Linked DNA regions of Homo sapiens. The protein of the gene in region 2 purifies or fractionates together with the protein of the main gene of each other region. This does not show direct contact. Each region holds a gene or a part of one and is shown on either strand. Other genes may lie near its edges. The genes, in order: EOGT, GIP, IDUA, TOR3A, ORC4, UXS1 and SEL1L3.

What was found.
Region 1: the proteins of GIP (region 2) and EOGT purify together in Homo sapiens (affinity purification with mass spectrometry; one large-scale study listed by BioGRID and IntAct). This does not show direct contact.
Region 3: the proteins of GIP (region 2) and IDUA purify together in Homo sapiens (affinity purification with mass spectrometry; one large-scale study listed by BioGRID and IntAct). This does not show direct contact.
Region 4: the proteins of GIP (region 2) and TOR3A purify together in Homo sapiens (affinity purification with mass spectrometry; one large-scale study listed by BioGRID and IntAct). This does not show direct contact.
Region 5: the proteins of GIP (region 2) and ORC4 purify together in Homo sapiens (affinity purification with mass spectrometry; one large-scale study listed by BioGRID and IntAct). This does not show direct contact.
Region 6: the proteins of GIP (region 2) and UXS1 purify together in Homo sapiens (affinity purification with mass spectrometry; one large-scale study listed by BioGRID and IntAct). This does not show direct contact.
Region 7: the proteins of GIP (region 2) and SEL1L3 purify together in Homo sapiens (affinity purification with mass spectrometry; one large-scale study listed by BioGRID and IntAct). This does not show direct contact.

Annotation. Positions count from the first base shown.
Region 1 is NC_000003.12:69,003,685-69,007,184, forward strand, and holds part of EOGT (EGF domain-specific O-linked N-acetylglucosamine transferase isoform a precursor), read right to left. Parts: intron 1,551-3,500; coding exon 1,456-1,550; intron 799-1,455; coding exon 694-798; intron 1-693.
Region 2 is NC_000017.11:48,965,797-48,969,885, forward strand, and holds the start of GIP (gastric inhibitory polypeptide preproprotein), read right to left. Parts: upstream 2,801-4,089; 5' UTR 2,721-2,800; intron 1,458-2,720; 5' UTR 1,437-1,457; coding exon 1,351-1,436; intron 1-1,350. UniProt on the Homo sapiens protein: Potent stimulator of insulin secretion and relatively poor inhibitor of gastric acid secretion.
Region 3 is NC_000004.12:985,713-989,843, reverse strand, and holds the start of IDUA (alpha-L-iduronidase isoform a precursor), read right to left. Parts: upstream 2,801-4,131; 5' UTR 2,760-2,800; coding exon 2,602-2,759; exon of another isoform or gene 2,036-2,601; coding exon 1,895-2,035; exon of another isoform or gene 1,012-1,894; coding exon of another isoform or gene 1-1,011. Other genes in the region: SLC26A1 (sulfate anion transporter 1), read left to right, coding at 1-1,011.
Region 4 is NC_000001.11:179,094,283-179,096,496, reverse strand, and holds the end of TOR3A (torsin-3A precursor), read right to left. Parts: intron 1,530-2,214; coding exon 1,279-1,529; 3' UTR 501-1,278; downstream 1-500.
Region 5 is NC_000002.12:147,947,738-147,951,237, forward strand, and holds part of ORC4 (origin recognition complex subunit 4), read right to left. Parts: intron 488-3,500; coding exon 314-487; intron 1-313. UniProt on the Homo sapiens protein: Component of the origin recognition complex (ORC) that binds origins of replication. DNA-binding is ATP-dependent. The specific DNA sequences that define origins of replication have not been identified yet.
Region 6 is NC_000002.12:106,093,302-106,096,801, reverse strand, and holds the end of UXS1 (UDP-glucuronic acid decarboxylase 1), read left to right. Parts: coding exon 1-84; intron 85-2,644; coding exon 2,645-2,776; 3' UTR 2,777-3,491; downstream 3,492-3,500. UniProt on the Homo sapiens protein: Catalyzes the NAD-dependent decarboxylation of UDP-glucuronic acid to UDP-xylose. Necessary for the biosynthesis of the core tetrasaccharide in glycosaminoglycan biosynthesis.
Region 7 is NC_000004.12:25,751,489-25,754,988, forward strand, and holds part of SEL1L3 (protein sel-1 homolog 3), read right to left. Parts: intron 1-3,500.

The DNA.
Region 1 (3,500 bases), on a different chromosome or scaffold from region 2:
GGCCAATGATGTTAACAGTCAGAGTAGCATCTACCTTTGGAGAGGGGGATGGGGGTAGAGCCTGGGAGGGAGACTGAGGTGCTGACAATGTTCTATTTTTGGACCTGGGTAAAAGTTACATGGGTGGGTTCACTTTTTCACAATCCAAACTGTACCTTTTTCTGTATGCTTTTACATACTTTAATATATGTGTATTGTTTTTTAAATGGGTTCCCCAAAACACATTTTTATTTTTTAGATTTGAGGTCTCATCATATTGCCCAGGCTGGCCTTGAACTCCTGGGCTCAAGTAATACTTCTACCTTGGCCTTCCAAAGTGCTGAGATTATAGGCATGAGCCACCATTCCTGGCCTTGGCATGGACGTTTGACCTCAAAAATTAACATTATGTAAGTAACCTATGTGACTTTGTAAGTGAATAAAACTTGGCAATTGTGAGTTAATAAAAATGGATTTTTAAGCTGATTTTTTTCTTTCATTAGCAAACAGTAAGTACTGTATCTACTATTATAAACACATACTTAATTCAGATGCAACTGAGGGATTCACTCGGTTTCCGTCACTTCCCAGAAGCTCATGCCAAATTATGTACAAATGAAGTAACATTTTCCATTTGAGAGTCTCCATTAATATCTGCAAGTGCCGTAAATAAAGGCAAATATTTCCGAAACAGATACGTTAAAAATATCTTACCATGACTGCAGAGGGCTTTTGCGCTGACCTTCAGACGTCAATGTACGGATGTCAAGTTTACAGTGCCCTCCAATTTCACCACTCTGGAAAAAGTCCTCCTTAAATCTGGTATATAACAAAACATTAAGTTAAGTTCAGAAAACGTCTTCATGACCCAAGCACGTGGGTTGTAACTAAAGTGGATTACCAATTTCCAAACTGAATTTTTTAAAAGAATTTAACTATTTACAATAGAAAATTTCAAGTGTATATGAAAGTAACAGAATCCTATCAGGACCCTAATGTATCCACAACCCAACTTTGCAATGCGATTAACTCATGGCCTGTCTGAGTCATCCATCCCCCCACCCATTCCCCAACCCCTCTGCCATATCATCAAAAACAAATTCAAGATATACCCCTTCAGCAAGGCTTGGTGGCTCACACCTATAATCCCAGCACTTTGGGAGGCTGAGGTGAGAGGATCACCTGAACTCAGGAGTTTGAGACCCGCCTGGGCAACGTTAGAAGACCCCATCTCTTCAAAAATTAAAAAATTAGCCAAGCCTGGCGGTGCGCTTCTGTATCCCAGCTACTTGAGAGGCTCAAGTGGGAGGATCACTTGGGTTTGGGAGGTCACAGCTGCACTGAGCCATGATTACACCGCTGCACTCCAGCCTGGGCAACAGAGCAAGACCCTGTCTCAAAAAAAAAAAAAAAAATCCCTGGATCTGAAAATATTTCAGAATTTATACTAGATGTTAACATTAACCACTAAAGTACCTGTCATGATTTCTCTTGATGTTTCTTAAATCAAGATAGAGATTGGTTGCTCTGCAGTACTGAAGATAACGGGAACACACCAGACTTGAGTCACTCTGAAGGTTGAGCAAAAGAAAAGAATGACTCTGAGTATTAACACAGCAAAGACTCATCCGGACTTGCTAGACACACTGACAGCACGGATACCCTCACATTCAAACCACACAACATGACAAGGAAAGCTCTCCAAAGACTGCATCTGCTGAAGGATATTTTCTCCTTCCCAGCAGACCCTGGCCAAGCATACTTTTGCCAGTTTCCCACTTTTAAGTTACCATGGAAAACTCCCCAACGATCTGTCACCTCAAATTTTAAAGCCAAGAGCTGTATATGTGGCTCAGTTCAGTCCCCTTTAAAAGAAAAAAAAAGTACCCAGATCCAGTACTACTACCCCCACAGCTATATGAAAAAGCAGCTTCCAAAAGCCAAAAGAAACAAGGAAAAATGCACATGTAAGAGACATTAAAAGCAGGGAGGGAAGTTTGCCAGTTTTAATAAGAGGTGCTTTCTGCAAACCGTAAAGCTTGTGGGAGCCTCTGTCTCAACAGCAACATGAGGGCAATATTTTCTAAATAATTGAAGAAAGGAGTCGAAGAGTCAGCTACCAGAGCCTGATTCTATTTCAACCAATCTGGGTTATGCTCAGAACTTCAAAAACTTTTATCTGCTCTGGGTTTTATTTATAGATTTAAATGCCATTTTAATTGTTTTTCCCAAAACTCCCAATGAACACAAAGTCTCAATCTTGACCTGCATGGTGTTTTGGAGTCTGTAGTTGGTAAAATATTGCAATGGACTGAATGTCCGTGTCTCTGCCAAATTCATATGTTGAAATTCTAACCCCCAATGTGATGATATTGTTTAGAAGCTACCCAGTCTATGGTATTTTGTTATAACAGCCCAAACAACTAAGACAAGGATCATACTCTGCTAGCACAAAGCAAATCAAGGTAAATCTTAATCAAAAGAACATTCTACAAGCCACCTTGAAAGAGGAGTGCAAGATAGGGGTTGTCATTATTATCTTGCCCTTTCCATGTGAACAGCTAGACTTGAGCCAAATGTGCAAGACAGAACAGAACTCTGTTAAAGACACCCTGCGGCCGTGCAGTTTAATGGCATGCCTCACATCCTGAGGCCTCATTCACCTTGCTAGAATGCTCAAAGCTCTATTACGTGACACCCTCCAATAGCTCTATAAAGTATATACTCAGTTTTTGAATGTGAGTAAATTAAAAAATTTTTTTAGTTCTCCAGTGTGGTTGGAGATCGGAGACCCCTGAGATGTCAGAGACTCAGGGTTCAGGATCATTGAACAGTGTACCTTAATCGTAAGTGCTTACAACTTCATCAACCTTTAAAAAATAATGCTGAGCCCTTGGCCGGGAACCAGGCCCTGCTGCACTGAGCATTTTTATCTGCAGAACCTCATTTCTTCCTTACCATATGCTACATAATGGGCATGGCTTTAAGGCAGAGGAAATTGAAACAAGGAAAGCCTAAGTACCTTGTCTAAGACTCAGGATCTGAATTGTAGTTGAGAGCCTGCTCTTGTATTTACTACCCCAAACCACCTCTTGACAACGTGTTTATCTGATCCACTGAGGTACGATATGGTATGGTTGAAAGTAAACTGGAAAAAAACCTGCATTTTAATCCTAGATGTGTAATTAATTTTAAAAGGTAGCTGTGCAGTCTTGGAGAAGTTGCTTAACTCCTCTGAGGACCCTGTTTTCCATACTGATAAAGTGGCATCAGTAGTATCTGCTATAACGCTTATAAGCATCAAACGAGATAACACACAGAAAAGCTTTCTGCAAACTGTAAAGCTCTGGGCAAATATAGAGCAGTATGGTGGTGTTATATCATCTGTCCCAAACTATCTGAGAATGAATTTGTAAAGACGCAGTTTATCAATTTCTCTTCATTAGCACATGTTTGGGGGAATGATTCTAAACCTAAAAATATTTCGACTGTCTTAAAATATGACTATCTGATAAATGTGG
Region 2 (4,089 bases):
TCCTCACAACATCCTATGAGGTAGGTTCTATTTATATCCCCATTTTGTGAATGGAGAAACCAAGGTGCAGAGATTACCTTATTATTGTCTTATTATCTGCCACTCCGTATAGGTAACAGATCCAGGATTTACCCCAGGCCATCTGGGCTCAGATCTATGTTCTTAACATCTACATGATACAGGCCAGGCGCAGTGGCTCACGCCTGTAATCCTAGCACTTTGGGAGGTCCAAGCAGGTGGATCACGAGGTCAGGAGTTCAAGACCAGCATGGCCAAGATGGTGAAACCCCATCTCTACTAAAAATACAAAAGTTAGCCGGGCGTGGTGGCAGGTGCCTGTAATCCCAGCTGCTTGGGAGGCTAAAGCAGAGAATTGCTTGAACCCGGGAGGCGGAGGTTGCAGTGAGCCAAGATCGCGCCAGTGCACTCCAGCCTGGGTGAGAAAGTGAGACTCCAATTAAAAAAAAAAAAAAAAGGGCCAGGCACAGGGATTACATGCCTTCAATCCCAGCGCTTTGGGAGGCCAAGGTGGATGGATCATCTAAGGTCAGGAGTTCGAGACCAGCCTGACCAACATAGTGAAACCCCATCTCTACTAAAAGTACAAAAATTAGCCGGGTGTGGTGGTGGGCACCTGTAATCCCAGCTACTCGGTAAGCTGAGGCAGGGAAAATTGCTTGAACCCAGGAGGCAGAGGTTGTAGTGAGCCGAGATTGTGCCACCACACTCCAGCCTAGGTGACAGAGCGAGACTCCATCCCCCCCCAAAAAAAAAGAAAAAGAAAAGAATAGAAAAAAAAAAGAATGCATTCATAAGCCTGGGTAACATGGCGAAACCTCATCTCTACAAAAAATTCAAAAACTAGCCGAGCGTGGTGGTACATGCCTGTGGTCCTAGCTGCTCGGGAGGCTGAGATGGGAAGATGCTTGAGCCTGGCAGGCAGAGGCTGCAGTGAGCTGCGATCACGCCACTGCACTCCAGCCTGGGCGACAGGGCAAGATCCTGTCTCAAAAAAAGAAAAAAGAAAAAAAGAAAAGAAAGAAGCAAACATGCATAAATGAATAAAACATTTATTGGGAAGGGAGATTCTGTCATCTTCGGACAATTAACCACCAGGAAGTCCCGCCAGAGATCTAACCATAGTCTCTCCCACTGTAACAGCAGCACACAATAAATCCTCTCTGGCTCAGTGCTCACTTTGCACTCACGCTGCCGGCAGGTATTTCCCTGGAGCTTCCTACCTCTTAGCCTGGATTCCTTCCCTTTCTCATCTCCCCCTAGAAACAAATCCAGAACCTGTCATCCCCTAACCCCTCCTCTGCCCCATCCCTTTCCTCTCACCACTCCTACCTGAAGTGACCCTCTTTCTTCTCTCCTAGTCCCACTGCCAGGAACAGGGACAGCAGCAGCAGAGCAAAGGTCTTCGTGGCCACCATCTTCCAAGGTTATTTCCTGAGCTAAGACAGAAAAAAGCCAGGACATGTTGAGAGAGCAACCAGTAGGGGTTCTGAAAGCTGGAGAGGGGCAAAGCCCTGAGGTTTGGACCCTTTCTTTTCCTTTTTCTTTTTTTTTTTTTTTTTTGAGATGGAGTCTCGCTCTGTCGTCCAGGTGGGAGTGCAGTGGCACAATCTTGGCTCACTGCAACCTCCACCTCCTGGGTTCAAGCCATTCTTCTGCCTCAGCCTCTCGAGTAGCCTGGACTACAGGCATGTGCCACCACTCCCGGCTAATTTTTGTATTTTTAGTAGAGACAGGGTTTCACCATATTGGCCAGGCTGGTCTCGAACTCCTGACCTTGTGATCTGCCCACCTGGGCCTCCCAAAGTGCTGGGATAACAGGCGTGAGCCATCGCGCCTTGCCAGTTTGGACCTTTTCTAAGAGCCTGGGGCAACACCATGGGGGAAGATGAGGGGTGCTGTGCACTGGAGTTAGTGACTAGAAGGGACATGGAATCTTACCAAAAGATGGACCAGGCTGGGTGCAGTGGCTCATGCCTGCAATCCCAGCACTTTGGGAGGCCCAGGTGGGCGGATCACTTGAGGTCAGGAGTTTGAGACCAGCCTGGCCAATATGGTGAAATCCTGTCTCTACATAAAAGACAAAGATTAGCCAGGTGTGGTGGTGCGCGCCTGTGATCCCAGCTATTCAGGAGGCTGAGGCATGAGAATCGCTTGAACCTGGGAGGAAGAGGTTGCAGTGAGCCGAGATTGCGCCAGTGCACTCCAGCCTGGGTGACAGAGCGAGACTCCATCTCTAAATAAATAAATAAAGGAAACATCAGCGCTACCTTCTCATTTCTCTTTCTCTTTTTTTGAGACAGGGTTTCGCTCTGTCACCCGGGTTGGAGTGCAGTGACACAATCGTGGCTCACTGCAGCCTCGACCTCCTGGGCTCAGGCAAACCTTTCACTTCACCCTCCCGAGTACCTAGAACCGCAGGCATGTACCACCATGCCCAGCTAATTTTTTAAATTATGTGTAGAGATCGAGTTTCCCTCCATTGCCCAGGCTGGTCTTGAACTCCTGTGCTCAAATGATCCTCCTACCTCGGCTCCCAAAGTATTGGGATTACAGGCATGAGGCACCGCACCTGACTATCTTCTCACATCTCATATAGAGGAAGAGAAAACTAAGATGCCAGGGCTGCTGAGCATCTCAGGGTTGCCAAGATCCATCTGCTCTCGGGTCATCTCATCCATCCCTGTCTCCACTTCTCTTACCAGACTTCCTTTCCAGCTCTTCCAGAAGAAGGACAGATAGGGGTCTCCTTCCCCTGATTTCTGGACCTTCTGAGCCTGCTGAAGAAATCATGCCCCAGCTCCTTTATATTAGGCATAGACCTGCTGATTAGCCTAAAAGCATCTTATCTCAAGAAATTAAGCCCACAGCTCCTGCCACATTAAGTCCATTTTACACATAATAGAGTTGCCCTTTCCACCTGAACTGTGCTAATTGGTGATTAACATTTGGCTATCTCCAGCTGCTGTCTGGGGCCTGCCTGTGGGTAGGGTACCCTAAGTACCCCCTTTTTTCTTCCTCCTCCTCCCTTCTGGGCACAGGGCCCACTACTATTCTTCTATGCCCTACTTCCTTTACAGTTGCCCTCAGTTAGAAGGGATACTTGTAGGCCAGGCGCGATGAATCACGTCTGTAATCCCAGCGCTTGGGAGGACGACACGGGCGGATCACCTGAGGTCAGGGGTTCGAGACCAGCCTGGCCAACATGGTGAAACCCAGTCTCTACTAAAAATACAAAAATTAGCTGGGCATGGTCGTGCACGGCTGTAATCCCAGCTACTTGGGAGGTTGAGGCAAGAGAATCACTTGAACCTGGGAGGCAGAAGTTACAGTGAGCCAAGATCGAGTTCACTGCACTCCAGCATGGGCAACAAAGAGAGACTCTCTCAAAAAAGAAAAAAAGAAAAGAAAAAAGAAAGGGGGCCGGGCGCAGTGACTCACGCCTGTAATCCCAGCACTTTGGGAGGCCGAGGCGGGTGGATCACGAGGTCACGAGATCGAGACCATCCTGGCTAACACAGTGAAACCCCGTCTGTACTAAAAACACAAAAAATTAGCCGGGCATGTTGGCAGGTGCCTGTAGTCCCAGCTACTCGGGAGGCTGAGGCAGGAGAATGGCGTGAACCCGGCAGGCGGAGGTTGCAGTGAGCCGAGATGGCGCCACTGCCTGCCAGCCTGGGCGACGGAGCGAGACTCCATCTCAAAACAAACAAACAAACAAAAAAAAAAAAAACAAACAAAAATTAGCCAGGCATGGTGGCACGTGCCTGTAGTCCCAGCTACTTGGGAGGCTGAGGCAGGAGAATCGCTTGAACCCAGACCTGGAGGCAGAGGTTGTAGTGAGCCAAGATCGTGCCACTGCACTCCAGCCTGGGTGACAAAACAAGACTCTGTCTCAAAAAATAAAAATAAAAATAAAAAAGGGTACTTGTAGTGAAGACAGACTTGGGGTAGGGTGGCACTAACTGGCAGGGGGACACTCCCACAAGGCAACAGGCTACTTCTGGGTGGGAGAGAGTAGGTCCACAGTCATCTGAATCCCAGCTCTGGACAGTGGCCTATGGCTTTGGT
Region 3 (4,131 bases), on a different chromosome or scaffold from region 2:
AGTCACGGCTACTCTGTGCGTGCCAACCAGGAGCTGCTGGCTGTGGGCTGCTGCAACGTGCTACCCGCCTTCCTCCACTGCTTCGCCACCAGCGCCGCCCTGGCCAAGAGCCTGGTGAAGACAGCCACTGGCTGCCGGACACAGCTGTCCAGCGTGGTCAGCGCCACCGTGGTGCTGCTGGTGCTGCTGGCGCTGGCACCGCTGTTCCACGACCTACAGCGAAGCGTGCTGGCCTGCGTCATCGTGGTCAGCCTGCGGGGGGCCCTGCGCAAGGTGTGGGACCTCCCGCGGCTGTGGCGGATGAGCCCGGCTGACGCGCTGGTCTGGGCAGGCACCGCGGCCACCTGTATGCTGGTCAGCACAGAGGCCGGGCTGCTGGCTGGCGTCATCCTCTCGCTGCTCAGCCTGGCCGGCCGCACCCAACGCCCACGCACCGCCCTGCTGGCCCGCATCGGGGACACGGCCTTCTACGAGGATGCCACAGAGTTCGAGGGCCTCGTCCCTGAGCCCGGCGTGCGGGTGTTCCGCTTTGGGGGGCCGCTGTACTATGCCAACAAGGACTTCTTCCTGCAGTCACTCTACAGCCTCACGGGGCTGGACGCAGGGTGCATGGCTGCCAGGAGGAAGGAGGGGGGCTCAGAGACGGGGGTCGGTGAGGGAGGCCCTGCCCAGGGCGAGGACCTGGGCCCGGTTAGCACCAGGGCTGCGCTGGTGCCCGCAGCGGCCGGCTTCCACACAGTGGTCATCGACTGCGCCCCGCTGCTGTTCCTAGACGCAGCCGGTGTGAGCACGCTGCAGGACCTGCGCCGAGACTACGGGGCCCTGGGCATCAGCCTGCTGCTAGCCTGCTGCAGCCCGCCTGTGAGAGACATTCTGAGCAGAGGAGGCTTCCTCGGGGAGGGCCCCGGGGACACGGCTGAGGAGGAGCAGCTGTTCCTCAGTGTGCACGATGCCGTGCAGACAGCACGAGCCCGCCACAGGGAGCTGGAGGCCACCGATGCCCATCTGTAGCAGGGCCAGGCCTGCCCAGCAGCCTCTGCTCCCTCCTGGGGACCCACAGCAGACGTCTGCAAGCCACTGCTGAGACCCTTCCCAGGGAGGAGCCACCCAAGAGCTGCACTCTTGTGCCACAGCTGCCCTGGGGAAACCGGGGAACCCCAACTGGGAAAGGAGGCCCTCTGATCACACGCAGGACCCAAACACTCAGAAATCAAGAACCTCTGCCTCCGAGACAGGCTGGCCCACAGTGCTGGCTGGGCCCCAATGCACCGTCCCTCAGCTCAGGAGGGATGGGCCTGACCTGACGCTCAGGGTTGACATCTTATTTGAACAAGGGTCCCCCGCCATCATGCAGCCTCCAAGGTGCCAAGAGGACTCCCTATGCCCAGGCCTGCCCGGTGCCCACCCTGCTGGTAGGAGCCAGCGGCTCTGGCCAAGTGCACGAGGGTCTCTGTGTTTCCAGAAGGCCCCACACACCCAAGTGCCCCTCACACCTCGTGCCTCCCCCTCACAGGGTGGCCACCTGCACCAGCGTCAGGGCCCAGGGTGCTGTGACCGATGAGACCTCAGCTCAGCCCTCAGGTGCAGTGGCCCTACCCAGCCTGGCCAGCAGACACACACAGGGATGCTCACGGGTGCACCAGGAGCCAGGTGCGGCGCAGCCAACCCTGAGCCTGCAGGGAGACCTGCAGGAAGCCCACCGTGCCCCATGCAGGGGCTCCCTCCAGCACACAGCCCTCACCCCAGCACAGCCAGCAAGGACACGCTCTCCCCAACAGGGTGCTTCGGCGGGAGGTGGGGGAACAAGGGGTCTTCCGAGCAGCCCCCAGCCCTCCCCTCCCATCTGTGCCTCTGTAAGGGGCTCTGGGACGCCCAGACCCTGCCCGCCGCCCACCTGGTGGTGACAAGCTCCAGCAGCCAGTGGGTCCGGACCTGCTTGATGCCGCGGTGAGGGACGGCGCCCACATAGGCGAGGTTGAGCTGCTGGTCCCAGCTGAGGACGTACTGGTCAGCCTGGCTGTGTGGCAGCGGGGGGCTGGGGACAACAAAGGGGCGGCTCAGTCCCGAGCCTCAGCATGGCTGGCAGCGCGGCTGACACACACGTTCAAGCCCAGGACTGCCCGGGCGCAGGATCCAGGCGCTGCCCGTGCGTTCAGTGACTAATAAAATGACCCTTAGGGCCAGGAATGTGGGGAGGTCCCATCTTCATGGGGAACGGCAGCAGCAGTAAGACGAGGGGCCAACGCCAGCCCTGGCCCTGGCCCTGCCAGGAAGGCGGGTACCTCAGCTCTAGGTGGAAGGAATGGGACAGGCAGGCCAGGTCCCGCTGCAGGGCCGTCCACTCCCAGGGGAGACTCCTGGTTTACCTCAAAGAGCAGGATCCCGGGCATCGGCCTGGGCTGCAGGGGGCGGCCCAGGCTCACGCCCCGGCGCCCACTCAGGTGGAGGACCCACCCACAAACACGGCGGGGGGCGGGCCCGGGAGAGCCAGGGCCCCAGAGGAGGGAGCTCCGGTCTCTGAAGCTCTCACAGTGCGCAGTCAGGGGGCGCCCGAGCTCTCCCCGTGCGGCCAGGGGGTCCCGGAGGCCGCGGAGCGCTCACCAGAAGCCTGTGCTCCTCCAGAAGCGCCGCAGGGGCCACAGCGCGCGGGCCGCGTCCACATGCACCAGGTGCGGGGCCTCGGCCGGGGCCACCGGGGGCGCGGCCAGGAGCGAGGCCAGGAGCGCCAGCAGCGCGGCGCGGGGGCGCAGGGGACGCATGGCCACGCGTGCTCGGGGACTGCGGGGCTTCGGGCTGCACTGCCGGTTCCGCCTCCGGGTCGGAGTCTGGGCGCGCACCCCATGTGACCGCCGCCGCGGGGCGGGGCCTTGGTGAGGGGGCGATGGCCGGGTGGGAGGGGTTGGGTGGCCTCGGGGAGCCTCGGGGAGCCGGGAGCACGGCAGGGCTTGGAGCCCCGCTTCCTTGCGGGCCTCAGGGGCTGCTCTGAGGACCGATGACTCGGAAAGCGCTCAGAAGAACGCTTCGCCCGTTGGTGCTATGTGAGTTGAGCCATTACTGTCTTGTTTTTCTCTGTTTTTGTGTGTTTTTGAGACAGAGTCTTGCTTTGTCGCCCAGGCTGAGGTGCAGTGGCGCGATCTCAGCTCACTGCAACCTCCATCTCCGGGGCTTCAGCGATTTTCTCACCCCAGCCTCCTGAGTAAAGCGTGCGCTTTAGCAGGAAGGAGAATTACCCCAGAAGAGCACACTGGGCCCTCCTTACACTTGGCTTCAGATCCATGGATTCAACCAAGCAGACTGAAAATATTGTTTTAAAGCCAAAGCAATACGAAATAATACATATTTTAAAACAATACAGTATAACAGCTATTTACAGAGCATTTACATTGTTTTAGGGACTATAAGTAATCTTGATTTAAACTACACAGTAGGATGTGCGTAGGTAATGTGCAAATACTGTGCCATTTTATATCAAGTACTTGAGCACCTGCAAATTTTGGTATCTGGGAGGGTCCTGGAACCAATACCCCGAGGATACCATGGGACAACTGTAGTACATGTGTAGTCCATGTATGCATGTGTGAATCCAAGCAAACATTGTATAAAAATAATAATGGAAAGAACAGGCTTGGTGCGGTGGCTCACACCTGCAATCCCAGCACTTTGGAATTGCAGGCCAACACGGGAGGATCACTTGAGGCCTGGAGTTTGAAATCGGCCTGGGAGATGTACCAAGACCCCATCTGTACAAAAAAAAAATTTAGCCAGATGCGATGGTATATGCCTGTGAGGCCCAGCTACCCACGAAATTGAGGTGGGAGATTGCTTGAGCTTAGGAGTTCAAGGCTGAGACGGGCCATGATCACACCACTACATTCCAGCCTGGTTGACAAAATGAGACCCCATCTCTAAAAAAAGAAAAGAAAAAAAGAACAGTCTACTAACAAAACGAAAATACTGGACAATAATCCTCTCTAAGTTGGGAGAAGGATAATTAGAGTTACAGTGTTCTGGGTCTTTTTATTTTGGGGAGAGGGGTTAAAATATTGCTTAACATTAGGTCTTCTTATGTTGAAATTGCATTAAAAGTGATTAGCCATTTAAAAGTGAAATAGTGTGTATATATTCCAAATT
Region 4 (2,214 bases), on a different chromosome or scaffold from region 2:
AGGCAGGAAGATAGCTTGAGCCCAGGAGTTCCAGACCAGCCTGGGCAACATAGTGACACCCTGACTCTATATGTGTGTATAATTAATATATAAAAAACATAGGGAAAAAAGACCTGTGTTATTCCAGAGGCATGGGAGAAGAACCAAGAAAAGGGGAAAGGCACATAATGAACACTGTGTCTAGGCACAGTGCTACATGTCTACACGGTGCCATTTAATCCTCAGAATGACTGCTTTTCTTTTTATAGCTGAGAGTACAGGAGTGAACATTTTCATATATAAGAGCAATGTGCTATGGGAGTCTCTTCAGTAGGAGGTTGGCATGACTTGGCTTCACTGATGTGGTCCCAAAGCAAACAGACTAGACAGGCAGACCAGTCACATACCCTGCCAGCTCCGTGTGTGCCAGCATCTGCCCTGTCTCTGCCAGGCCTTATCAGGATTACCCAGTGTTTGTTTGAAATTTTGCTAGGTCTCAGAAACAGAAAGTACGCCAAGGATTTTAGGAAAATCAAAAATTTTAATCTTATCATCTTTACATACAACAAACATGTCAAGACCCCCTATTGTCTTTGAAAAGGTCCCCCCTCCCCCGCCAAAATCTGTAGACCATAAGTCTTGGCCTACACTGACCTGGTTTGTAAAATATCTTCCTCTGTGTACTTTTCCCTTCAGCCTCAGGCTCTTGGCTGATTCGCTCACAACAGAAGCAGCTTGGCTTTCCTCTGGAAGTACCAATTTGAAAGCCCACCAGCCTGCAAACCTAGAGTGTATTCTCCACCCCTGGGTCACAGAACTTCGTTCTCCCCGGCTCTGTAACCCAAGGACCCTACAGCCTCTGAGGCCTAACACCCAAGCTCTTCCTTGCAGAAGAGCTGAGATGCTAAGGAGACCATCTGGAGTGTCATAATAAGCCCTTGGGATTTGCTGAGCTCCCACATGGCTTTCTTCAACCACCTGGCCCACTTTCTTCAACCACATTCCACTTTGGAATGCGTGTCTTTAAGGCACCAAGTGATCTTAAGAATGGGCTCTGTTTTTGAATTCAGCAATCCAAGTTCCTATCTATCTCGGTGGGACCTCCAAAAAAAAGAAAAAGGATTGGCTTGGCTTCTAATGTAAGGCCTGCCTTTTACACACCAGTTGTGTGTTTGTTAGTGGCTGCTGGATGCCAGTCCACACCCTCAAACACCTCACAGTCCCAAACGGGGTGCTCCTACAGGTCCCAGGGTCCTGTTAGTGGAAGAAAGGCAGTTCCAGGAAGTCTTCCTCTAGCCTTCATGACAGGAAGTAGTTAATCCTCTGGGAAATAGACTTGCAGCCCTGGGAAGAAAAGAGTTGTTCCTCCTTGGGGACATACACCATCATCTGGGCTATTTCATCCAGTGTCTCTTCTTTATACAGGAGCTCCTGGCTCAGGAAGGCATCCCGTGCACACAGCCTCACGTGACGGTACTCCAAAGGCAGGAAGGGGATGAAGTAGTCAATCAGGTTTTCCTTCACAAGACGGCTGTGGCCAAAGCCATTGTCTGAAAGCAAGACCAAAGTTACATGGAGTCTGACCTAGGACTGAACCTAGCTGGAATTTAGCGGGGGTGGGGGTTGCTGTTGGTTTCTTTGAAACAGGGGCTTGCTCTGTCAACCAGGCTGGAGTGCAGTGGTGAGATCTGGGCTCCTTGCAGCCTCCACCTCCTAGGTTCAAGGGATCCTCCCATCTCAGCCTGTGAGTAACTGGGACCACAGGCGTACAGCACCACACCTGGCTAATTTTTGTTTTTTTTCTAGAGACGGGGTTTCACTATGTTGGCCAGACTGGTCTAGATCTCCTGGACTCAAGTGATCCGCCCGCCTCAGCCTCCCAAAGTGTTGGGATTACAGGTGTGAGCCACCACACCTGGCCCCGACTGAAGGGGCTGGGTGAGGTTGGATCTCATCTCTCAACTCCAGGAGTGCTGTCTGCAGCGTATGTCAAGAACTCTACAGCTGTGTCTCCTTTAGGTAAAGTCTTGCAGTGAGACTCAGAGTCTCAGGCTTCAGAGACCACTGCGCCTGTTCTTGGGGCCAGTGCAAACTACTATTTCCAAGCATTCCCAGAAAAGGAGCTCAGGCTTTCTTACCACTTTTCTTGTGCCCACCCAGGGTTGACAATGTGAGATGATTATAGTCTGCCCTCTGTGTTCCCAAGTACCCTGTCTGCTTCATAAACACACATTC
Region 5 (3,500 bases), on a different chromosome or scaffold from region 2:
TATATAAAATAAAATTATCTAAAATATAAACCACATACAGATAAAACTAAAGCCTCATTAAAGTTTACTTCAAACTAATAACATAAATCCTAAAGCTTAACTGTGATGTTCTTTTGAGATAGAATTTAGGAGAAATGACATTTCAACTGTCTAAGAAGAAAATTTTTAAAAAGTATATAATTTGTATTACTGCAGCATTATCCTTCAGCAATATTAGAAACTTTGTGTTAATTTACTAATTTCTAAAATTTGTGTTTTAATTGCTTTAAATCATATAGCAAGGAACATTTAGCTTTATTGCCTTTTAAGATACCTGAACATTTTCATTCCACTTCTCAGCAAAAACCTTGTCTGGAAACTCTGCAGGTAGAGATAACTGTTCTTTAAATATTTTAACATACTGTGGAAAACCAAATGAATTCATTAAGTGTATCTGCCGGTGAGAAAATCTTGACTTCACTCTTTTTTCTAAGAGTTCCAAAATATCCTTAAAAACAAACAGAAATCTCTATAAGGAAGATGAATGTTTTTAAAAAAACAAAAACACTGTACCAATGTTAGAGGTATAAGTAAACTATCACCTATAATTAGTAATGTTTAGTCTACAATACATAATTAAACATTTAAAACATTTTATGCAAACTAAATAATCCACCTCCAGGCATTTGCTGGCTTGGTGATGTCATGCCTTTTTCCCACCATGTTACTCTCAGCTAATCTGTAACATTCCAAGACCCAACATGACTGTTTAAAAAAACTGACAATATTGAATAGCTATATGTCACAATAACACCAAGAGTGTCAATAAGGAATTCTGTACATTCTATGAAGAACTGAGATTAAAAAATTAATAGCATGATAGGCAGCAGGAACCAACTTTAGGAGAGGAAAGTGGCAGAAATGCAACATGGCATTCGTAAGTTATCTTCCGGCTTTTTTTTTTTTATAGTAATGCTTTTAGACTCTATTTGTATTTGTGCTATTTTTCCTTAAAAAGAAATCAGGAATCAAATTTACTGTCAAAGAACACTAAAAACCAAAGGATAACTAATATGTACTGCTTGTAAGGACATACGAAGTGTTCTTAAATGAAGAAAATACTTCCACAAAACTGATAGGCATTCAAACTATCCAAGACATCAAAAGCACAATAGGTAAGCTGTCTTCCTAAGTCACATATATTGCAGGAACTGTCATTCCTAAATCTCTTTTTAATAATGAACTTGAGCAATTTTTCAAAATATATTATAGTACACAGCATATTATATATAATATATATAATTTATATTATATATGTATATATACATCTATATATATACAGTATAGTATAATATATATTTATTACTTAAGTTACACTCCAAGGTATACAACCAAGACAAATGAAACCAGATAACCACAAAAAAAGTGTATGTGAATGTTTGCAGCAGTATTATTTTTAATAGCTTAAGAAATATAAACAACCCAAATGTCCATCAACTGATGAATGGATAAACAAAGTGTGGTATATCTACACAACAGAATATTATTTGGTAATAAAAAGGAATAAAGGGCTGATATATGCTGTAACACAGATCAACTCTGAAAACATGTTAAAGAAGCCAGTCACACAAAACTATACGTTGTATGATTCAAAAATTACTAAACAGTCAGAAAGTGGATTAGCAGATTAGTGGTTGCATAGGGCTGGGGAGGGAACAGGGGATTTGGGGTGATCACTAAAAGGTACGTGGCTCTTAAACTGTGGTGATAAATGCACAACTCTATGAATAAACAAAAACCCTGTTAATTGTATAATTTAAATGAGTGAGTTGTATGGTATAAATTACATCTCAATAAAGCTGTTTTAAAAACAGTGACATGATATTTGATGACTTTAAGGAATTACAGCTAATATAACAATTATATTAGGGAAATATATTTTTAAAGAGCTCTTATCTCCTAAAAATACATTCTAAAATACTTACTGATAAAATGATATAATACCTAGTTTTTGCCTCAAAATAATACAGGAATGAAAGGAGATGTTGAGGATAAATAAAATTAGTCTGTAGTAATTGAATCTTGGCAATGAGTGGAGAAGGGAATTCAGGGCTCATTATTTATTCTTTCCTATGTATATTGTTGAAATGTTATAAAGATTTTTAAAAGGGGAGTAGTTTAAGCCCAGAAATATACATCTCCACATCTAGCCAGATGACTCTCATAATACCTACGTGAAGAAATCATGATATAGAGGAAAGAATTCAAGTGATCAAAATGGGATCATGGTTAGTTTGGGAAGGTGGACAGGAAAGACTAATAGCCTGAGGTAGGAGGTGGGAGGGTGAATAAAAAATTTTGAATGTTTTTATGAGGTCAAAGAAAAGTATAGTGCCAGCATGAGAACTAAAAGACAAGAAAGGTTATATTCAGAGATTCAGATATTGTACATTTATTTTCTATTAAGAAAGAGTTCTAGGTCACCCATATAGGTAGACAGTGGAAGTAATAATCTATACAAGCAACAATTCAGACCCTAAATTTGGGAATGAAAAGAGATGGAAGTAAATACTGTCTTTGTAGTAGGCAGTAATGACAGAAGTTGGCAATGTGGGCATACAGGAACTAGTAAAAACAAAACAAAACCAAAAAACAAAAATGGAATTACTCCCAATGGGGAAGAAGATGCTTGCTGGCAAAGTCACTACTCCCTCTATACTTTTGTTCTCTCCCTATAAACGTGGATACACAGATAAAATTATACTTGAGGCCAGGCGCAGTGGCTCACGCCTGTAATCCCAGCACTTTGGGAGGCCAAGGGGGGTAGATCACGAGGTCAGGAGTTCGAGAGCAGCCTGGGCAACATGGTGAAACCCCATCTCTACTAAACATACAAAAATTAGCCAGGCATGGCGGTGTGTGGCTGTAATCCCAGCTACTCGGGAGGCTAAGGCAGGAGAATTGCTTGAACCCCGAAGGTGGAGGTTGCAGTGAGCCGAGATTATGCCATTGTACTCCAGCCTGGGCGACAGAGCAAGACTCCATCTCAAAAAAAAAAAAAAAGAAAAAGAAAAAAAATTACACTTGAAAGAACTACACAGTTGGAGAATTATATATATACAATAAAAAAGAACATCTGATAACACTGCTAAGAAGTTACTGGCATTTTATTTGGTCCGTTATTGGGTCAACAACACTCACCACAGCCACTTCCACCCAAAGGAAGATTTTTTTTTTTTTGGCAAGAAGGAGGATGCTTCTTTGATCCTTGTCATCGCCTGCTGCTTTTGGCAAGGAGGAATAAAGATATGTGGAGCACCAGCCAGTGATGTATGAGGGATGTTTATACTAAAGCCATGTATCATAAGCTCTAGAGCACAGGAAAGGAGGGGCAAATGACAGTCACTCTATAGAGAAACAGCACTGGAAGGAGGACTGTTGAAATATGAATTAGAAAAAAGTTTCACTTTTCTGAAAAAGAAAAAGGGTTGTAGGAAAGGAGATGTGAACATGTAAATGTG
Region 6 (3,500 bases), on a different chromosome or scaffold from region 2:
TTTCTCTCCGAAGCCCAGGATGACCCACAGAAAAGAAAACCAGACATCAAAAAAGCAAAGCTGATGCTGGGGTGGGAGCCCGTGGTAAGTGCAGGGAGTTAATGCTGCCTTGTGGGGAGGGGCCTCCCGTGTCCTGTGTCTGCTGTCCTGTAGGCACTGACCCTTGTCAGACAGCCCCCGGAGGAGCAAGGTGGGCTCGGCATCCAGGCAGATAGAGGGTTTTCTCCAAGTGGTAAACAGCCTCTCCTGTATCAGGAGTCTCAGAGAATGTTACCTGGGAAGCGGCTGGAAGCCCCTGCTCTGGGCTCTGTTTTCGTAAAATCTCTCATGCACACACACATTCTTACATTCTCTCATACACATACACTGCCATACAAACACTTGTACACACATATACTCACACTGTCTCCCACACACTCACACTGTCATATATACACTGTCATACAAACACACTTAATACAAGTATACTCACACACACTCATTTTCACACATACATATACATTCACACTATCATACACATTCTCACATTCACTCACATGCGCACACTCACTGATCCACACTCACATTCACACATACACTCCCTCTCCCACATACATACACACACACACACACACACACCCCTGACTGTGAACGCTGTGCCAAGGGCGCTGGCAGCACACGCTCAGAGCCCTGCGTAGCCCCAGTTGCCTGCCTATTGAGTGTGCGGGGCCAGGTCAGGGGCAAGTGGTCCCCATCAGCCCCGCAGTGGAGCCCCTGGTTGGAAGCGTGCGAGACTGAAGGGTGTGGAGGAAGGGGAACTGCATGCCTTCCTGTTGTCTTCAGTGTGTCTACTGAAGGGGGCAGGGTGGGGCGGCTGCTGCCTCCCTGGGGCTGAGCCTGAACCCCGCCTGCTTCTGCTCTGCCGCCTGCTGTGCCCTTCCTGCCTTGGGTGACTGCAGGCTCCTCCCCGCCAGAGAACGCTCGTCCTCAGGGCTGCCTGTGTCCTTCAGAGACCACCTGTGTAGGGAGGTTGGCTGGGTTGGCCCCATCTATAGAAGCAAGCCCACCTCATTTACTGTCACCTCTGCCTGGCTGTTCCCTCTTTGCCCACCCTCATGTGCCCCACTGAAATTCGGGCTCCCCTCGGGCAGAGGCGTGTAGTGTAGCCCTGTGTCCAGCAGGAGCCCGGCACCTGTCAGACCTGACACACACTGGGTGCTCAACAAATGTAGGAGCATCTTGGCATGGCCCTTGGGTTGTGGCGCAGTCAGAGAGTCAGGGACGCAGTTGAGAGCTCAGTTTACCTTTTTAAAATGTGCATAGTCAGAGCTGAGTGAGTAGAATCCTAGAATATTGAACTTCAAAGGGACATGAGAGTTCCAGCCTGATCCTTATTTCATTCTGTCATGTACAAGTCTACGTAATCTGCTAAAAACTGCAGAAATTTGTTGAGTGAAATAAAAATACAATTACACCCAGACTTCACAAAATCGAATAATCCCAAGCTGTGCAAAACAGGTTATAGCAGCCTAGGTTTCTTGTTTTTTTGAAGCTTTGTAAGGGGCCATTGGTCCCTTTGTAAGGAGAGCCTATATTTTTAAACAAAATATTTTTTGAAGATTTAAATATACATTCACTATGTATTAACTATTGCTTTTTATGTGAGGTGTGTGTATGCTCAGTATCTTTATCTTTCTGGAATTTAGACCTATAATATTCTAACATTCTTGGAATGTGAGCCATCTACCACTGGTTTCTCTTCTAGTAGTAGTTTTAATTTATAATAAATTTTTGAGGGATATGATCCAAAGAAACTTACAGGCATTATCCATCTTAATTGTCCCAAGTGTGTGTGTTTAACAGCTTGTTGAGATATAATTGGCAAACTGCACACTGCCCATATTTAGAAGATACAATTTGATAAGTTTTCATCTATTTTGACACCTGTGAAACCATCGCTGCAGTCAAGCTGACAGACCTTCTCCCCCAGTGGTGCCCCAGCACCCCTTAGCAGTGCCTCCCTTCACCTTTTCTCTTTCTGCTGTTAATCAGCAGTTGATCTGGCTGGTTTCCTGTTGGCTGCAAAGCAGCTTCAGATGAAGGTTGCTTTCTGTGGTGTGGGCTGCCGTGGGTCCCCTCTCAGACTCAGCCTCTTAGTATGGTGGGGGTGCAAGTGGGCCATGATCCGCTAGGCAGTGCAAAGGGTTGATGTCACGTGGGAGAATCAGGCGTGTTGATCAGATGCAGATCACCTTCCCAAAGCATCTTCCCGCCACTCCAAGGTGGATTTCTTCTGAAAGAATGGGGCACATGGGCATTATCTGAAAAACAATCTTGCCAGCCGATTCAAACTGGAGTAGACATTATACCAGCAAGAGGTAGTCGGGGTCTTTTGTGAGGTGGAGCTCACTTTACGTCAGTAAGAGTGACACTTGTCAGCTCCACAGTACATTCTGAAAGCGGCCCTGAAGGACTTCTGGCTTCTCTCGGTGGGCCGTGATGCTGGATGCTGTCACAACCAAAGCATGGTTCTGTGAGTGTTCCTCTGAAGGAGGCCTGACTGGCTGCAAGGTGGCACTTCCTTCCTGCAAGGTGGCACTTCCTTCCTGCGATGCCCTTCTGTCAATGTGACCTTGTCTCCCTTTCTTGCTTTCCCTTTAAACAGGTCCCGCTGGAGGAAGGTTTAAACAAAGCAATTCACTACTTCCGTAAAGAACTCGAGTACCAGGCAAATAATCAGTACATCCCCAAACCAAAGCCTGCCAGAATAAAGAAAGGACGGACTCGCCACAGCTGAACTCCTCACTTTTAGGACACAAGACTACCATTGTACACTTGATGGGATGTATTTTTGGCTTTTTTTTGTTGTCGTTTAAAGAAAGACTTTAACAGGTGTCATGAAGAACAAACTGGAATTTCATTCTGAAGCTTGCTTTAATGAAATGGATGTGCCTAAAAGCTCCCCTCAAAAAACTGCAGATTTTGCCTTGCACTTTTTGAATCTCTCTTTTTATGTAAAATAGCGTAGATGCATCTCTGCGTATTTTCAAGTTTTTTTATCTTGCTGTGAGAGCATATGTTGTGACTGTCGTTGACAGTTTTATTTACTGGTTTCTTTGTGAAGCTGAAAAGGAACATTAAGCGGGACAAAAAATGCCGATTTTATTTATGAAAGTGGGTACTTAATAAATGAGTCGTTATACTATGCATAAAGAAAAATCCTAGCAGTATTGTCAGGTGGTGGTGCGCCGGCATTGATTTTAGGGCAGATAAAAGAATTCTGTGTGAGAGCTTTATGTTTCTCTTTTAATTCAGAGTTTTTCCAAGGTCTACTTTTGAGTTGCAAACTTGACTTTGAAATATTCCTGTTGGTCATGATCAAGGATATTTGAAATCACTACTGTGTTTTGCTGCGTATCTGGGGCGGGGGCAGGTTGGGGGGCACAAAGTTAACATATTCTTGGTTAACCATGGTTAAATATGCTATTTTAATAAATTATTGAAACTCACCAGTCATGGAC
Region 7 (3,500 bases), on a different chromosome or scaffold from region 2:
GACTATCTGAGTGACCCTAGGACCACCCAGACCCAGGGACCTTTCCACCACCGTGGGAGGTATAAGCAGCAAGAAAGACTGAGCTGCCTGGTGGAATGCGAGCCAGGAGTCAAACACAAGTTCCCTTGAAGGAAAGAATACATATATTTATATGTATTCTTTATATATATAAATAAATATATGTTCTTTATATATAAGTATATATTCTTTATATATATAAGTATATATGATGAAGATCAAGACATTGACTAATCTATTGAAAGTATCAATTGAGCTATCTTGGTATTTTTTATTGATCAGTCAATGTTTTTGTTGAAATGCTTTAAAAAATAGTTGAATGGGCTGGGCACGGTGGCTCACGCCTGTAATCCCAGCACTTTGGGAGGCCAAGGCAGGCAGATCACGAGGACATGAATTGGAGACCAGCCTAACCAACATGGTGAAACCCTGTCTCTACTAAAAATACAAAATTTAGCTGGGTGTGGTGGCGTGCATCTGTAATCTCAGCTACTCAGGAGGCTGAGGCAGGAGAATCGCTTGAACCCGGGAGGCGGAGGTTGCAGTGAGCCGAGATCATGCTACTGCACTCCAGCTTGGGCGACAGAGTAAGACTCCATCTCAAAAAAAAAAAAAAAATAGTTGAATGGGCAAGGTGCGGTGGCTAACGCCTGTAATCCCAATACTTTGGGAGGCTGAGTCGGGCGGATCACTTGAGGTCAGGAGTTCAAGACCAGCACAGCCAACATGGTGAAACCCAGTCTCTACTAAAAATACAAAAATTAGCTTGGTGTGGTGGCAGGTGCCTGTAGTCCCAGCTACTCAGGAGGCTGAGGCAGGAGAATGGCATGAACCCCGGAGGCGGTGGTTGCAGTGAGCCGAGATAGCGCCACTGCACTCCAGCCTGGGCAATAGGGTGAGACTCCATCTCCGAAAAAAAAAAAAAAAAAAAAGTTGAATGTTTTAGAAAGAGTCCTAACAGCAAAGAAAAACATACTAGGCTTTGGTCATTATGTCTGTTTCTGAGGTAAATCAAGCTATTTATGTGTGGGTATTACCTAGTGTCAGCATGCTTTAATTACAGGTCCAGTGCCCCAGAGGACATACTCCTTGAGAACTACCAGCTAACATTTGTGGTTTTGTTTTGTTTTTGAGACAGAGTTTCACTCTTGTTGCCCAGGCAGGAGTGCAATGGAGCAATCTGGGCTCTCTGCAGCCTCTGCCTCCCAGCTTCAGGTGATTCTCCTGCCTCAGCCTCCCAAGCAGCTGGAATTACAGGCATGCACCACCATGCCCCGCTAATTTTTGTATTTTTAGTAGAGATGGGGTTTCACCATGTTGGTCAGATTGGTCTAAAACTCCTGATCTTAGGTGATCTGCCTGCCTTGGCCTCCCAAAGTGCTAGGCGTGAGCCACTGCGCCCAGCCCATTTGTGGAGTTTTAAACACTTTACATTGTGTTACCTCATTTGGTTATCTCAACTACAACAGGCAGTGGATGTACTACTATTTCTGCTATTTACGGAAGAGGGAACTGAGGCACAGATAGGCTCCTTCCTTTGCCCAAGGTCACATAGCTAGCTACTGGCAGGGCCAGAATCTTAGCAGTGTGCCTCCCACACCGATGCTGTTAACCACCGTCCTGCGCGGCTAGCCTTCTGAATGCAGGACAATTTAATGTGGCAAATGCCATGATGTGTCAACTATATATCACAGAGCATATAAACTCAGGAGGAAAATGAAGGTAGTTGGAGCTGAACGCAAAATGGATGGACAGCTCAACTGCAAGTCTTGACTATAAATCATTAATTTTTAAATACAACTGACTGGAAAAAATGCAAATCACAAAATGACAAAGCTCTCTAACTTATAGCAACAATCCTCACCCAAAGCTGCTGACGGGAGGCTCCTAACTCTCAAATACATTTCCTCTTTTTTACAGTCAGTCAGCACCCAGAGTTCATTATTAAGTTTGTTTCACAACGCCATGGCTGCTACATGCACCCATCCCTGTCTTCCCCCAGCTGTGGGGCAGGTCTCAGGACCTTGTGCACCAGCTCACTGGGGAGACACCAAATGGTAGAAACTTGGTCTCTGAGCAGCATCGCCTTTGCAGCAGCTTCTCCTCACCTCCTCCATGCCTCGATTTCCCTGCCCCATCATCCCATCAGCTTCACTGTACTGCTGGAGTAACTTCCTACTTAAAAATTATTGATAGGCCAGGCACAGTGGCTTATGCCTGTAGTCCCAGCACTTTGGGAGTCCAAGGCAGGTAGATCCCTTGAGGTCAGGAGTTCAAGACCAGCCTGGCCAACATGGCGAAAGCCCATCTCTACTAAAAGTACAAAAATCAGCTGGGGGTGGTGGCGTGCACCTGTAATTCCAGCTACTCAGGAGGCTGAGGCAGGAGAATCACTTGAATCCGAGAGATGGAGGTTGCAGTGAGCTGAGATTGTACCACTGTACTCCAGCCTGGGCGACAGTGAGACTCCGTCTCAACATAAATAAATAAATAAATAAATAAATAAATAAATAAGGTCAGTTGCAGTGGCTCACACCTGTAATCCCAGCACTTTGGGAGGCTGAGGTGGGTGGATCACCTGAGGTCAGGAGTTCGAGACCAGCCTGACCAACACAGAGAAACCCTGTCTCTACTAAAAACACAAAATTAGCCAGGCGTGGTGGCGCATGCCTGTATTCCCAGCTACTCGGGAGGCTGAGGCAGAAGAATCACTTGAACCCAGGAGGTGGAGGTTGTGGCGAGCTGAGATTGCACCATTGCACTCCAGCCTGGGCAACAAGAGCGAAAGTCAATCTCAAAAATATATAAAATAAATAAATAAATAAATATAAAAATTATTGACAACTTTTTTTTTTTTTTTGACACAGGGTCTCACTCTGTTGCCCAGGCTGGAGCGTGGTGGTGCAATTTCAGCTCACTGCAACCTCCGTCTCCGGGGTTCAAGCGATTCTCATGCCTTGGCTTCCCAAGTAGCTGGGATTACAGGAGTGAACCACCATACCCGTCCCATATTTCAACTCTTAACATTAGTTCTAACAGGGCTGGCAGGTACCACTGTCGGGGCACATTTTGGAAATGTGTGGAGTTTTTTTCTTTTTCTTTTTTTTTATACTTTTCGGCCCTTACTACTCAAAGTATGCTCTTACTAAACAGCAGTGTGGGCATCATCTAGGAGCTTGCTAGAAATGCCAAATCTCAGGGCTTACCTACTGAACCAAAATCTACTGAACTAGAATCTGCATTTAATAAGAATGCTGGATGATTCATATGCACATTAAAATTTATAAGCACTGGGCTAGAATGTACTTATTGAAATCAATATTATTTTATTACAATTAGTTTCTTTTTATTTCCCCTTTATATTGCTGTTAGGGCCCTATATTGATTTTTAAAAATGTGTGTAGATGGGTTAATTATCATGAATTTCATTTCAAGGTACTAAAAAATATGTTTCAAAATATTTCCTATGTGAGAGGCAATGG